Homo sapiens: one gene and its partner. The protein of the gene in region 2 interacts with the protein of the main gene of each other region in a biochemical or structural test. Each region holds a gene or a part of one and is shown on either strand. Other genes may lie near its edges.

The links. The genes of interacting proteins can lie anywhere in the genome.
Region 1: of the proteins of ACSL4 (region 2) and PRKCB, one has a biochemical effect on the other in vitro, tested with the Homo sapiens proteins (one study listed by BioGRID).

What each region holds. Positions count from the first base shown.
Region 1 is NC_000016.10:24,216,983-24,222,013, reverse strand, and holds the end of PRKCB (protein kinase C beta type), read right to left. Parts: 3' UTR 2,054-5,031; coding exon of another isoform or gene 1,901-2,053; 3' UTR 1,403-1,900; downstream 1-1,402. UniProt on the Homo sapiens protein: Calcium-activated, phospholipid- and diacylglycerol (DAG)-dependent serine/threonine-protein kinase involved in various cellular processes such as regulation of the B-cell receptor (BCR) signalosome, oxidative stress-induced apoptosis, androgen receptor-dependent transcription regulation, insulin signaling and endothelial cells proliferation.
Region 2 is NC_000023.11:109,673,312-109,682,115, reverse strand, and holds part of ACSL4 (long-chain-fatty-acid--CoA ligase 4), read left to right. Parts: intron 1-740; coding exon 741-850; intron 851-979; coding exon 980-1,118; intron 1,119-3,700; coding exon 3,701-3,851; intron 3,852-4,004; coding exon 4,005-4,128; intron 4,129-7,642; coding exon 7,643-7,714; intron 7,715-8,804. UniProt on the Homo sapiens protein: Catalyzes the conversion of long-chain fatty acids to their active form acyl-CoA for both synthesis of cellular lipids, and degradation via beta-oxidation. Preferentially activates arachidonate and eicosapentaenoate as substrates.

The DNA.
Region 1 (5,031 bases), on a different chromosome or scaffold from region 2:
TGGGGAGTCCTGAACTATCTTATTGGTCTCTATAACACCAGTATCCAGAACTGTGCTTGGCTCAGAGTCGGGGCTCAATATTTATTAAATGAAAGATGGGTTTATATCTGGCAGAGGGGGAAAGTTTGAGAAGCTGGCATGGAATGAGGAGGAATAAGAGGCAGCAATGGTAACCTCTTCTATATAATACTGTCTTAAATGGGATGCATGTTCAAACATCTGTAGAATCCCAGGTATTTTTGTTTTCTAAATGTGATGCCTAGAACACTGTTTCTTCCTGAAGTTTAAATGGGCTTCAGCCAACTTTAACTGGCAGACTTTCTAAAATTCTGCAAAGATTAGTGCACTAGGTAAGATCAATGGATTCACTGTATCTTTCCAATGCTCCATTTACTGAGGCTCTTTCAAGAAGGGAAGAGATGAATACACTCTGTAGAGAGTCATAATGTACATAGTGTGAACACATTTGCTCTTTTCTGCTACCCACTAGCCTTAGCAGCTACAAAGGCATGTGCTACAGATTGGATTACTATATCTTTTGAAAAGAAAATAGAAGCATGACTTCATTCAGAGAAGAAGGTATTAGATTGACACCCAGTGACTCAGTACTGTGCCACTCTGCTCTGAGAGAGTGCGGGTCCTTATCATGCCAGCAGGGTTTAGAAGCAGTCTCCCTTATTTCTCCCTCTTCTCTTGGGCCTCCCTGGACAAGCGGTTGAAAAAAAAAATGGCTTATACTCCCCCCCCTCTTTTTTTGGCAGGTGCTTAGCTAAATTAGGAGAATATAAGTCAAAGGTAAGTCGTTTTACAAATAGCAACATCCTCATGGACAACAAACAAAGGATTCTCTCTGCACTGACACCAGCCTCTTTCCTGACTTTTGTCATGGCTGGAATAAAATCTTACATATCTTGTGCTTGATACATAGCTTAATAAACACGAATCACATTGAGTGGGTGGCTGCACACATACCCTGATTAGGGGCACAAGAAAATATTAAGGTCCTCAAACCTGTGACTCACGAATGACAGAGGTTTCAACCTCAAGTGGCTATAGCAGCCAGGGAAGTGGATGGAGGGTATAAGACAATAGGGGGTGGTGGAGACTGTGGCAAAATGAGAACATACACTGCTTTTAAAGGAGAAGCATTTCTCAGTTCTGTAGAATTATTTCCATGTGGAAATACAGGCTCAGAGCTGCTAGTCTTTTGTTTCTTTTTTCAAGGGAATCTAAAAGTCCAGGAATTTATATAAAGTATCTTATTTTGTCATGTTCACAATGGTTTTGATTAAGTAAAATTCCATGTGAGTAAAATTAAGCTTATCTAATGGCTACAAACTGGATCTTCAGTCTGTAACCTCTGTAACATAGTCTATTTAAGAAAAGACATATAAACAAGAGCTTGCATATATTAATTCAGTTTAATCATATCAATTCTTAAACAAAAAACTTCCTCCAAGAGACAATAGTTCACAGTAACTGCAAAGCTTACTCACAATTTTTAAAAATATCGCTCATGCTTAGCATTCAAAGAAGATATTATAGAATAACTGTAAAAACTTTTACCAGGAACATCAGCTTCTGACTTGAAAAATTACAAATACTGAAGCATTTTGGTATCAGACACAGTAGTTTTGACATTGTCTGTTCATTTGATGAGTTTCTGGAAGTTTGGAAAATTGTACCTCTATAATTGGATAATGCGCTTATTCTAAACTAAACATTTTCAAATGTAGAAAACAAACTAGCAAGCTACACATACAAAGAAAAGCCCTCTAAGACAAGCTTTCCACATGTTGAATGCCAGCATGTGCACCGTGAATCCTGGAAGACTAGAATTGATACATACGCTTGGCTTGAAGTCTTACACCCCAGGCTCAACGATGGAGTTTGCATTCACCTACACATTAATGACAAACTCTGGGTTAGTATAAGAGAAGCCAGCAAATTCATTTTGGTCCAAGTTCATGATGAAGAGTTTATCAGTGGGGGTCAGTTCCACAGGCTGTCTGGTGAACTCTTTGTCGAAGTTGGAGGTGTCTCTCTTGTCTCTCTGCCAAATGGAAAGTAAACACATTAACACAGCGTAAGAAGAAAGACACAGGACCAAGATACGCCAGTCATTGGGTGGCTGATACCATCTCATGAGCAGAGTCAGAAAGAGCCCTGTGCTGAAAATTTTTAGCAGCTGCACTCCACGCACTGGCTTTCATTTCACATTGTATGTTGGCTTGGGGATAGAAATGTGGTGGAAATTTTCTAAGAAAAGAAGTAAGTCATTGAATGTCAGTTAAGAATTGCCATAAAGTGGTGTGTGTGTGTGTGTGTGTGTGTGTGTGTGTGTGTGTGTGTGTGTGTTGCTGTATTTTCTTTGGCTTTAGGATGAATTGAATTGGAAGCTACTTATTACCATGCTTAATGTTATAGAAATAATCATTAGGTAGAGCGTCCTGGAGAAAACCATTCAGTAGCAGCCCAGGTGGCTAGAAGACCTCTTTCTCTGAAAAGGTGAACTGCTGCCCATCTACTCTGCCCCCAAGAAGGCAGAATGGCCATGTGGAGAAATCAGATCACTGCTTAATGAAAGGAATTGACCACCGTCAGCTCGAAAATCCACCCACAGTCTAGAATTGGGTGTTTATCAGGCAGAAGTTCTCTCCAAAGACATTTTTAGCATGTGTCAACAAACTATAAGAGAGAAAACCCAAAGCTTAAAGGAGGGTGTGTAAGGGGAGCCTTAAAACAAAACAAAACAAAACAAAACAAAAGAAACTCAAAGCAACTCGATTCTCCTAGTAAGTCTGGCATTTCTTTTTTTGTTCAGTAGGGAGGTGGAGAAGAAATTAACCCCCATTTACTAGCAATTGCTTGGGGCAAGTCTCACCAGGGAACATCAGAATGTGGGCTAATAAAGGAATCTGTATGATGCTCCGACCTCTTCAGGGTCCTTGCAAGCCTCTTGTCTTTCCTCATCATCACCACACCCACCTGGGGCAGGTGGAGCTGGAGTCCTCACCTCCTATATATGACATATGAGAGAACCGAGGCACAAGCAGGCAGGGTGGCTTGCCCAAGATTTCAGTGGGTTCCTGATTTTTACCTGACCACATCGCTGCTATGTAGGCCTCATCACAGTCTCTCGGACTGGAGGGACAACCCCATGGCTGTTTTATTACAAGACAACCAGGGAAGAAGGCCTTGTATTCCCTAGTGCCCTGCACATTCCCGGGCTGCAGCCAAAGTTGCCTCAGATTATAAAGGCCAGGGGGTCGGTAAGGATTCACTGACTCATTAGCGTTTGAGCCATCACCACCCAGGCTTTAGGTTTAGCCCCCTAATGGGCACTAGCTGTTAAGGATCTCTCATTGCTGGGTTCACTCTCCTTTGCAAAAGACCTTTTACAAGACTTGCTTCTTTGTGGCTGCTCCCCTGAGATAGGTAAAATGTCTCTATGGAGTTCCCTCCTTACTCTTGCCAAGTCTATGTGAGGGTGTGGGAGTGAGGTGGGCACACTGAACTCAGGAGCACACGTGGGTATGTGTGGCTAGAGTGGGGCAGGCTAAGATGCTGATGGAGCTGTTTCCTGGGTAGGGTCCATCTCTACCATGTCCCACCTGCCCTTTTTGTCTTGTCCTGCTTGCTGTTAGCCTGTGGGGTGCTATAGGAGTTTCCATCCCCCAGGCGCTCGGCATGTTACTTCCGGTGTTCACAACAAAGCTCGAATGCCTCCTCTTTAATATTGTCTGTGCATCTCTCTCCCAATCCCCACAAGTCACACTTTAGCATCCTTTAATTATCTTGATTGCACTTATTGCTTTCAGAAATTGTCTTGTTTATTTATTATTTCTCTCCAAGAAACAATATTCTTGGAGAATTTCTTGGAGAGAAACAATAAACAGGGTCCTCATCTGCTTCTTCACTAGTGTATTTCCAGTGCTAAGAATAGTGCCTGGCACACAGTAGGTTGTTTGTAATTATTTGTGGAATGAAGGAAGACTTGGGATATGCCTCTATCCTTTTTGCAACTTATAATTGTCCCCGAGCCAGAAACTTTACTCTGAGGCAAAACAATGGAATTGATTCCCATTGATCCTAAAGGTCTCCCAAATGGGCCACTGTCCCTTTTGAACCCCTGTATGAACTGAACTGTGTTAGGGCCCCTAAAGGTCTGAGAACTCCAGGACAGTGTGTGAGCTAAAAGGCAGGTATATTTGGAGCTAGAAGACACAAAGCTGCCTTTTTTTTAGGTCTCCCCTGGTCTCATCAACCCTATTTCGCTTTCCCTGCCTGTGGGCCTCTTATCAAAGATTCCCTTCTGACCAGCCCCACCTTGGAAAGCCCTGCCCCGTTTGTTGTGCTGGTGATGGCTAATGCTTCAGATAACCACATGGTCCAGACAGGACTTGCTTTTATGGACTTTGTCCTGTGGGCAGATCCCCAGAGAAAATACTCCTGGATTTTACCGTAGAAGTTGGGAGAGAATAAGCTTCTCTGTTGAGATCATTTCTTTGAGGTTGATAGCATCTGAAGCCATGTGAAAACAGTAGCACTCATCCAAGGAGGGTTATTAATTCTACTGACCTCCCATTAATCCCCCAAGAAGGTCCTTGTTGCTATGGCCCTGTCCTCTCTTCAAAAAGCTCTGTTTCTCAGTTTCTTCTGCACTGGAAATGTGGATAGAAAAGGAAGTGGTAGAAATTCTGACTTTCCATGGAAAGTTTCTCTAAAACAGACTTTGGCTTGAGTATCTATTTCTGCAAACTATTAAACTTTTGAAAAATAATGGCAAGAATTTGGAAAATGTTGAGTGCAGTATTTATAACACTATATTCCTTCCTTCCTTCCTTCTTTTCCTTCCTTCTTTCCTTCCTTCCTTTCTCTTTCTTTCTTTCCTTCTTTCTTTTTCTTCTTTCTTTCCTTTCTTTCTCTTTCCATTCATCCTACATTGTTTTCTAAAGTTGTCTCAGATCATTTGTCAATGGCCTAGTGTTTCTCCATGGTTTTTATCTTCCTGAGAGCATGTCCAAGCAA
Region 2 (8,804 bases):
ACAAAAAATAGATAATATGAAAATGATCCCCTATGTACCCATTACCCACTTTCAACGATGAACAGCTTGTGAAAGTGGCTATTTTTAACCACATTGTTTCTGGTTACCAATCTAGAGCTGAATTTTCAGTTCTTTCTAAGTTTAGCAGATGTCCTTTGATTCTAACTGATCTTGGTTTATGTTATCTCTGGTGGCTCCTAAGGAGTAGATCTCCTTGATCTCTCTAATTAAGGTGTGGAGGTCACCAATCACATTGGACATTGGACTCACTAAAACAGCTTCTTAGAAGGAGTAAGAACATTATCTGTGGCTGATCTTATGACTTAAGATCCTCAAGATTTTCAAGGACTTATCCATTCTTTGGAGGCTATGGCCAATGAAAGTGTGTATCAAGAAGAAGCCCTAGCTGGGCCAGTCTGACCTGAATTAAGAGTTCAGCCAGTACCTATTGGCCTTGAGCATCTAAATTGACAGATTTTTGATCAGCTGTGGCAGTGCGAGTGTTTCTGGGTTTCTTCAGGTTTAGGAAGTGAGAGTTCTGGGAATTTGTAAGGAAAACTTTGGGCTCCCAGGGAGTTTGAAGCAAGGTTGAAGGATGGTAACAGAGACTATGAAATCAAATTAAAATATACAATGTCTTTGTGTCTCTAAGTGTAACTATTATTAAAGACTGACTTCAATAATATCCATTTCTAATAGATGTTTATTACTTAATATTTGTGTTTATTTTTATTATGTAGTTGTGACTTTATATGCCACACTTGGCAAAGAAGCAGTAGTTCATGGGCTAAATGAATCTGAGGCTTCCTATCTGATTACCAGTGTTGAACTTCTGGAAAGTAAACTTAAGGTAAATATGAAATTTTCTTTTAATTCATGGTTGCGTTGTCTGGCAGGACAGAAAAATATTCATTCAGTAAGTGAATTTTTGTTGCAGGCTTAAGTTTAATAGCTGTTTTTTTTTCTTTCTGCTCAACAGACTGCATTGTTAGATATCAGTTGTGTTAAACATATCATTTATGTGGACAATAAGGCTATCAATAAAGCAGAGTACCCTGAAGGATTTGAGATTCACAGCATGCAATCAGTAGAAGAGTTGGGATCTAACCCAGAAAACTGTAAGTAAAGCAGTAAAAACAATTTTATTTACCTATTCCAAGTTTGTTATTTTGGTAGGTTAGGGAAACAAATGACATGAGTAAATCCACAAAAGTTCTTTGACTGAAAAAAAAAAGTTCAAAAATCTTTAAAAACCATCAAGACCATATATGATTAAGATTTTCCCTCCATTTCTCCTCAAAAAAAATAAGTTAGTAAATTTCACTAAGTGGTTGAGATGTAATCTGTGGTTCAGACTTCATGGCAGTTGCTGCCAAATGTTTCTTCATTTTTTAAATAACCCACTATAACCTTCCAATTTGGGCCTCATAAAAGAAAAATATTTCAGGCCTTCCATTCAGTAAACTTTCTGAAATAAATGCTTAATGCTAGTTATCTTAAGGATGTTTCAGAGGATGCAAAGCTGTTTACCAAGATTAATGCTTGGATTTATTTTACCACTGAGGTGGTAGTTGGTATTTCATTTGAAACAAGTAAGTGTACCTTGTAGCAAAATGTCAGTTGGCCATCAGGGCAGAGAGTTGAGGAAATTAATACTCCATTTGAAGAGTTTTCTTATTATGTTTAATGCGATGGTCAAAATACCATACTATAATGAGAAAAGGATTCATTTTTGCAGGAGAAAATGTTGGTCGAACCTCTACTCAGCTTCTGAACATTTTACCATTAGAGAATGAGCATGCGTTTATAATAACAGGTGTTATTATACACATCTGCCATGTGTCCAGAATGGCAGAGAGTCAGATTTTACCCTGCTTGCCGGCAAACAGATGAGCCTGCAAAACTTCCTGGTGCCATAGACTTTTGGGTCTGAGATGAGGGACAGTTTTTTACTCACAACAATAGCAGTAGCCAGAGTATCATATCAGCATTTGTGTCATAAGAGAGGAACTCTGAGCTTAAAGAGCCTGAATATCTTATTATCTTATTGTACTGGACAGTAAGCATGCCTGCTGTTTGCTCTGGGGAGAGACACTATCTCTGTGCAAATATCCTTGTAAAGATAGTCTGGAACAAAGTCAATGTCTCTGCTTGCAAGATGTGCAGAACATGAGACCCATAGAGAATTGTTTTTCTACACTAGGTTGACCCTGTAAGATTGGGATAAACTTGACTGAGAAGTCCTGATTGGTAGGGATCAGTTACAGTTCTGCTGATTGACCACAAAGGGTGTTGGCAGCAAGCTAAGGGGTCAGCAGTCTTCATAATTTTGTGTGAGCAATAATGTAATAGGCCACATATCCCACTTAGTTCTACTCATGTCTGCAATAGATAGGATACATATGTTTTTGTGGTACAGACAGTTATTGTGATGCCACTTTTTTGCATATTTACTTAAAAGTGGGCAGAAGCAAAGTATCACATGTGCTTAGATTAAGAAGAATTTAGCTACTGCTGTTGCTTTGGTTAATCATCAGAGGAAATATGCAGTCCTTATTTGCTTGGTTTATAAACTATGACTATATCTTTAAAAAGCATTAAAATTAGCCAGTTTAAGTGTAACTATCTTTGTTTCAGTGGTATAGCTCACTGTTTTAAAAAAATGTTATTTTAACTGGTATATAAAAATGTAAATAATTTGTGTAAAGATTTTTAAATGTGATAATCCTGTTAAACTTGTATTTCATTCTGATGATATATATGTGGCTTCTTAGCCATTTTGGTATATTCTCGGAAGGAAAAGTGGTTACTAGGCTAGCACTATACACTGTCTTGAAAGTGGAAGCTCCAGGGTTCTGTTTAAAACTTATCACCTTCAAATGTTAGCATTGAAGTCACCTTAAAGATCAGATCCAGTGGTTTTCAATCAGGGGCATATATGAGAATCACTTGTGGAGCTTTGTTCTATCCCAGACATATTGAATCTGAATTTTCAGAAAGGGGGTTCAGAAATAATATTTTATTTAAGTTCTGCACGTGATTCTGATACCCACTAGTGGTTAGTAACCACAATCTGTCCAGCTGTCTTATTTTAGAGATGAGAAACTGAGGCCTAAGAAGTTTATACACATACTCTGTCCTCCTGATACTCCAAAGTCCCAGAAATCTTTCCACAACATTGCTCTGTATACAACACTGTGGAGAGGCAATGCACAGACAGAGATTAGGTTAAACATCCAGAAAATGGGCCAAATTGAGTCCAAAATGCTCACTGTAATCAGAATTTGATAAACATTTTTGTTTTCTAGCCCAGGCTGGAGCACAATGGTATGACCATAGCTCACCATAGCCTCAACCTGCTAGGCTCACCCAGTCCTCCTGCCTTATCTTCTTGAGTAGCAAGGACTGCAGGTGCATGCCACTGCATCCGGCTAACTTTTTTAGTTTTTGTAGCGACAGAGTCTTGCCATGTTGGCCAGGCTGGTCTCGAAATCCAGGGCTCAAGTGATCCTCCCACCTTGGCCTCTCAAAGTACTAGGATTACAGGCATGAGCCACCTCACCCAGCTCGTTTTGATGATTTAAAGCAAATACTGTCTATTGATAGCTTATCGTTATGCAAAATCTAAATATCCTATTATTCTTTAGTAATTTAACTTTTGAACTGAAGTAAATGTGATATTTTTCATTCATTCATTTAGTGGGCATTCCTCCAAGTAGACCAACGCCTTCAGACATGGCCATTGTTATGTATACTAGTGGTTCTACTGGCCGACCTAAGGGAGTGATGATGCATCATAGCAATTTGATAGCTGGAATGACAGGCCAGTGTGAAAGAATACCTGGACTGGGGTAAGATAATTCTTTAACTTTCTTCTTAGAAATCAGAGTTCATGTTCAGCATTCTCTAAACTCAATCTATATTAAAATGATAAAGCTCTTGGTATTTCTAACTTCAAATGCCTTTTCAAGAATGGTTAAAATATTTCTCTTATTTTGTTTTAGACCGAAGGACACATATATTGGCTACTTGCCTTTGGCTCATGTGCTAGAACTGACAGCAGAGATATCTTGCTTTACCTATGGCTGCAGGATTGGATATTCTTCTCCGCTTACACTCTCTGACCAGGTGACAAACTTTTCAGTATATTGGCATGATCGTATGATGCTGCATGGTTTGGCTGAGAACATATTACTAGGACTCGAGATATTTTAATTCAGCTAAAGCTTTCTCCTTGACCTCAAAATAGCTTCCATGAACAATATGTAGCTATAGGAGATTACCCTGTAGATTTGTTAGCATTGCTTTAGCTATATATTTTAAAATTATTTTTTTTTTCTTTTCTTTTGCTCTGTCACCCAGACTGGAGTGCAATGGTATGATCTTGGCTCACTGCAACCTTTGCCTCTCGGGTTCAAGCGATTCTCCTGCCTCAGCCTCTAGAGTAGCTGGGATTGCAGGCGCCCGCCACCATGCCCTGCTATTTTTTTTGTATTTTTAGTAGAGATGGGGTTTCGCCATGTTGGCCAGGCTAGTCTCGAACTCCTGACCTCCAGTGATCTGTCCGCCTCGGCCTCCCAAAGTGCTGGGATTACAGATGTGAGCCACTGTGCCCAGCCTTAAAATTATTTAAAAATGAATAATTACTTTTATCTTTTTCTACTAGATTTTTACTCTTGAGAACTACGATAGAGAATATAAATGCAATGAGCCTTTTTGACACACTACCCATGAGCATTGGTGGGTTTCTGGGAGGAGATATGTTAGGGTCTTGGCCCAGTTTTCCCGAGATTTTTCTAGAGCAGTACCGTCTGATACAGTAGCCACTAGGCAGATATTTAAATAAAAATTAAGGGCCGGGCGCGGTGGCTCATGCCTGTAATCCCAGCACTTTGGGAGGCCGAGGCGGGTGGATCACAAGGTCAGGAGATTGAGACCATCCTGGCTAACATGGTGAAACCCCGTCTCTACTAAAAAAATACAAAAGAATTAGCTGGGCGAGGTGGTGGGCGCCTGTAGTCCCAGCTACTCGGGAGGCTGAGGCAGGAGAATGGCGTGAACCTGGGAGGTGGAGCTTGCAGTGAGCCAAGATCGCGCCACTGCACTCCAGCCTGGGCGACAGAGCGAGACTCCGTCTCAAAAAAAAAAAAATTAAGTAAAATTGAAAAAAATTTTTTTATTTGCTTTAGCCACATTTCAAGCTCTCAATAGCTACGTGTGACCAACGGCTACCATATTAGGCAGCAAAGATAAAGAATATTTTTATCATCACAGAAAGTTCTATTGGTAGGGGCTGAGGCATCTCCAAAGGTAGTCTCAGCTCACCATACTAAGTTAGGATTCTTCCTTCTCTCTGTAGTTCATAGCAGAAATCCCAACAATGGGTGGGGCTAACTCATATATGTTATACCCATTTGAAATTACACACCTAATACTATTGTCCACAGTTCTGTTTTATGTCTTCTTTGGAATAGTTGCTGTAGAAAAGCTTCAACCAGGCTTAGGGGAAAAAAAAAAAGAGCCACTAAAGAAGCTGTGGGGTTCTGGATGCTGAAAGACAAAGCAAGTATAGGTAGGAATGACTTGTCTATACGTGGCTCTGCTCCTCCAACACTGGGGGCCCAGCTGTTGTTTTTCAGACCGCCCCCCACCAGGCAATGCTGCCTTTTGTTTGAGAGTCTCCATGGAGCATGTAGTTGGTAAGATACGTCCTCAGTGTTCACAGTTAGAAATTGTAATACTTTATTTGTAGAAATACCATTTTAGGGAGAGGCTAGATAGGTTGTATACTATTAAAACAAAAAAAGTTAAATAGTTTTTTTTGGACTTGAGATTCCAATCACCTTTGTGTTTTTTTTTTTTTTGATATATGACTTAAAGTGCACAAATATTAAGTGTACTGCTTGATGAGATTTAATAAGCATATACACATATAGACCTCTGTGATCATCACCGTCTAGATTAGGAAAACAAAGAACATTTTCAGCACCCGTGAATGTCCCTTGGGTCCCCTCCTGGTCATTACCACATTGGATTCTCTTTGAAGGAAGAATCCAGCCTTCTTTTAAAGTGGCTTTTTCTGTGAGAACGCATTCTGTTCCAAACAACTCCTAGCTTTGTACTTTAAGAAACACAATCTTTGTATGACAGGGTGCTGCTGTGTTTGACTATACCACTCAGCTATAAATTCACACTTAAAATCTGCTAGAATAGTAATGGTATGAATAAATACACTATCCGATTGATAGCAGAACTTGACCTGGTGAAATCAAAGTAGACCTATCAATAAGACTAAGGCTTAAACTCTAAAACAAATTTAGTAAAATCTCTGATCATTATGTTTTGTTGTCATGGGTTTTTCTTATGCTCAGAGACATTATCAAAATGTAGAAAACATTTCAGTAAACTTTGAGTATAATTTTTTTTTCCCTTTGTGAATTTGGAAGCCAGGACTAGCCGTTCTTTGATTTTTCACTGCCTTTCTGAGAACAATAGCCTCAGTGTGGGAAAGGAGGGACAGTTGGAGTCTGTTGCTGGTCTGACTTAATTCTTGCTGTCTCTTAGGCTAAGCTAGTACATTAGAAGCCTGTTCAGTAAAATTCACACCTACTTTTTAAATGAACTTTACTGTAAAGACTCTCAATCTTACTAGGAATCTAAAACACTGGAACTTGCTTCACATAGGAAATCAGAAGGATGCAGGAGACTAGAAGCACCACATTTGGAGCCAACTGATGATAGCAATATTGTCATAACCAGGATTACTATGATCACAAGAAGACAAAATAACTGATAAAATTACTAAGAGTAAAAAAAACAAAGAAGGGCTTCTTGTGGCTTCTGCTATCCTGGAACTGCTCTCTGTAGCAAGAGCTGGTCAGTAGCATGCAGAGGGCAACTCCGACCTGAAGGACATGAGAGCCCATTTTGTTTCTGCAGAGCAGCCCTCCTGTGTGTGGTGTACATGGTTTCTGTGTAGGTTTCCACTTGCAAATGTGCACATCCTTGCACATATGTAAAATGAGTTATTTTATCTCCTTTATCCATATTAAAGAAAAGTAGGAGAAAGGCAACTTAGTTCTATCGGGAGAACCATCCTCTATATGGCCATTTGTGCACATTTATGTGTATCTCTACTTTGTCCCTGGCAGTGTTCTCAGTATCTTACCAACTAGAATATTACCAAATTAGAGTTTCAGTATGATGTTAATTGATGTTCATAGTGGTGTCTTCAGGATGTGGCTTTGCCTATTGTTAATCAAAGAAAGTTAAAATCACCTTCAATTTTGTTTTAGTGTTATATCTGTCTTAATCAAGTTTTTTTGAAAATGTAGTAATAGTCTGTGCTATATTTGATAGTATGTTATTAATAAGAATGTTTGATTCATCACAATGTCATTCTCTTGTTATCCTGGATCAAGGTTTCTCCTCTAAGGAAGGTGAAATGTGCTAGAAGCAGTTATCTGTAGCACTAAAATACTTACATTTGAGACTTGTAGGTTATGATAGTTGTTAACAGATAATCACAGAGCAATAAAAGCTCAAATTCCAAGTGTAACTTCTGTATTTGTTATTAATACTTGAATTACAACATGTTTTAAGGTTGGTTTTCCTGATCATATTTATTTTTTCTTTAATATAGTCCAGCAAAATTAAAAAAGGAAGCAAAGGAGACTGTACTGTACTGAAGCCCACACTTATGGCTGCTGTTCCGGTGAGTACAGAATATGAATATGAACATAAGAGGATTGTTTATATAATTTATTGATCGTACTTGGACCTTTTAAAAAGTAATACTCTTAGATATGTCTACATTTTAAAATAATTTTACCTTGTTGAAATCACAGCAAATGTGTTCATTAAAATCTTAGGTACCATACTAGGGAAGACAAAATGGCAAGATTTTGAAATGCACGCCTGTTTGAGTTTGCTGATACATGAAAATTAGGTGATGAAAATGACCTAGTTCAGGTTACCTACTGTGAGAATTGGTCAGACCGTTTTAAGGTAGAATATATTCTAAAGATCATCTTGTTTAATCTCTTAATTAAAAAAATGAGGAAACTTTAGGCCATCCTAGGGAGCTGAAGAATCGTATACAAGGTCAAGGATCTAAGCCCTCCCAACTCTCTTATGGTGATTAAGTAAACTGAAAATTGGAGAGAGCTCCCAAAGGAAAAAAGTTTAATTCTATATATTCGGAATCTTCATGTGAAATACTGCCTTAAAAAAAAAAGATGTTACATTTTATAGCCTTGTAATGATGAATTTTGAAACATTTAACACCATGTTTCAGATTTGTGTAATCAAATATGTTCTAGCTTTTTTTATGCTTCAGAAACTTCAGAAAGACTATGTATCACTACTGCTTATATTATGATCAGACTTGAAATCTTACCCCAATATCTTTCACAGAATTACTTTTGTATATGGAAACTCTGAGATTAGATAAGAAAGTGTTCAGTCCAAGTTGTTCTGAGAATTACAGATGGAAGATACTTTATGGTCCTTTTAGCTTCTAATTGCAAAATTACCAAATAACAAAGAAGTAGAATAGGTCAGAGAAGACTTTGCCTTTTTATTTAGAGGTTCTGTGTAATTCATAAAGTTTTCAAACAGAAAGAAGAGGCATCTGACTAAAACCATAAAAAAGTTGCTAATAATAGCTAGTGCAGTGCTTCCTATGTGCTAGGTAGGCACTGTGCAAAATGCCTTAGATAAATTATCTCACTTAATTCTAAGACTGCAAGGTGGGCCCTGTTACTCTATCTTATAAAGAAGGAAAGTTGCCCCAAAGCCACACA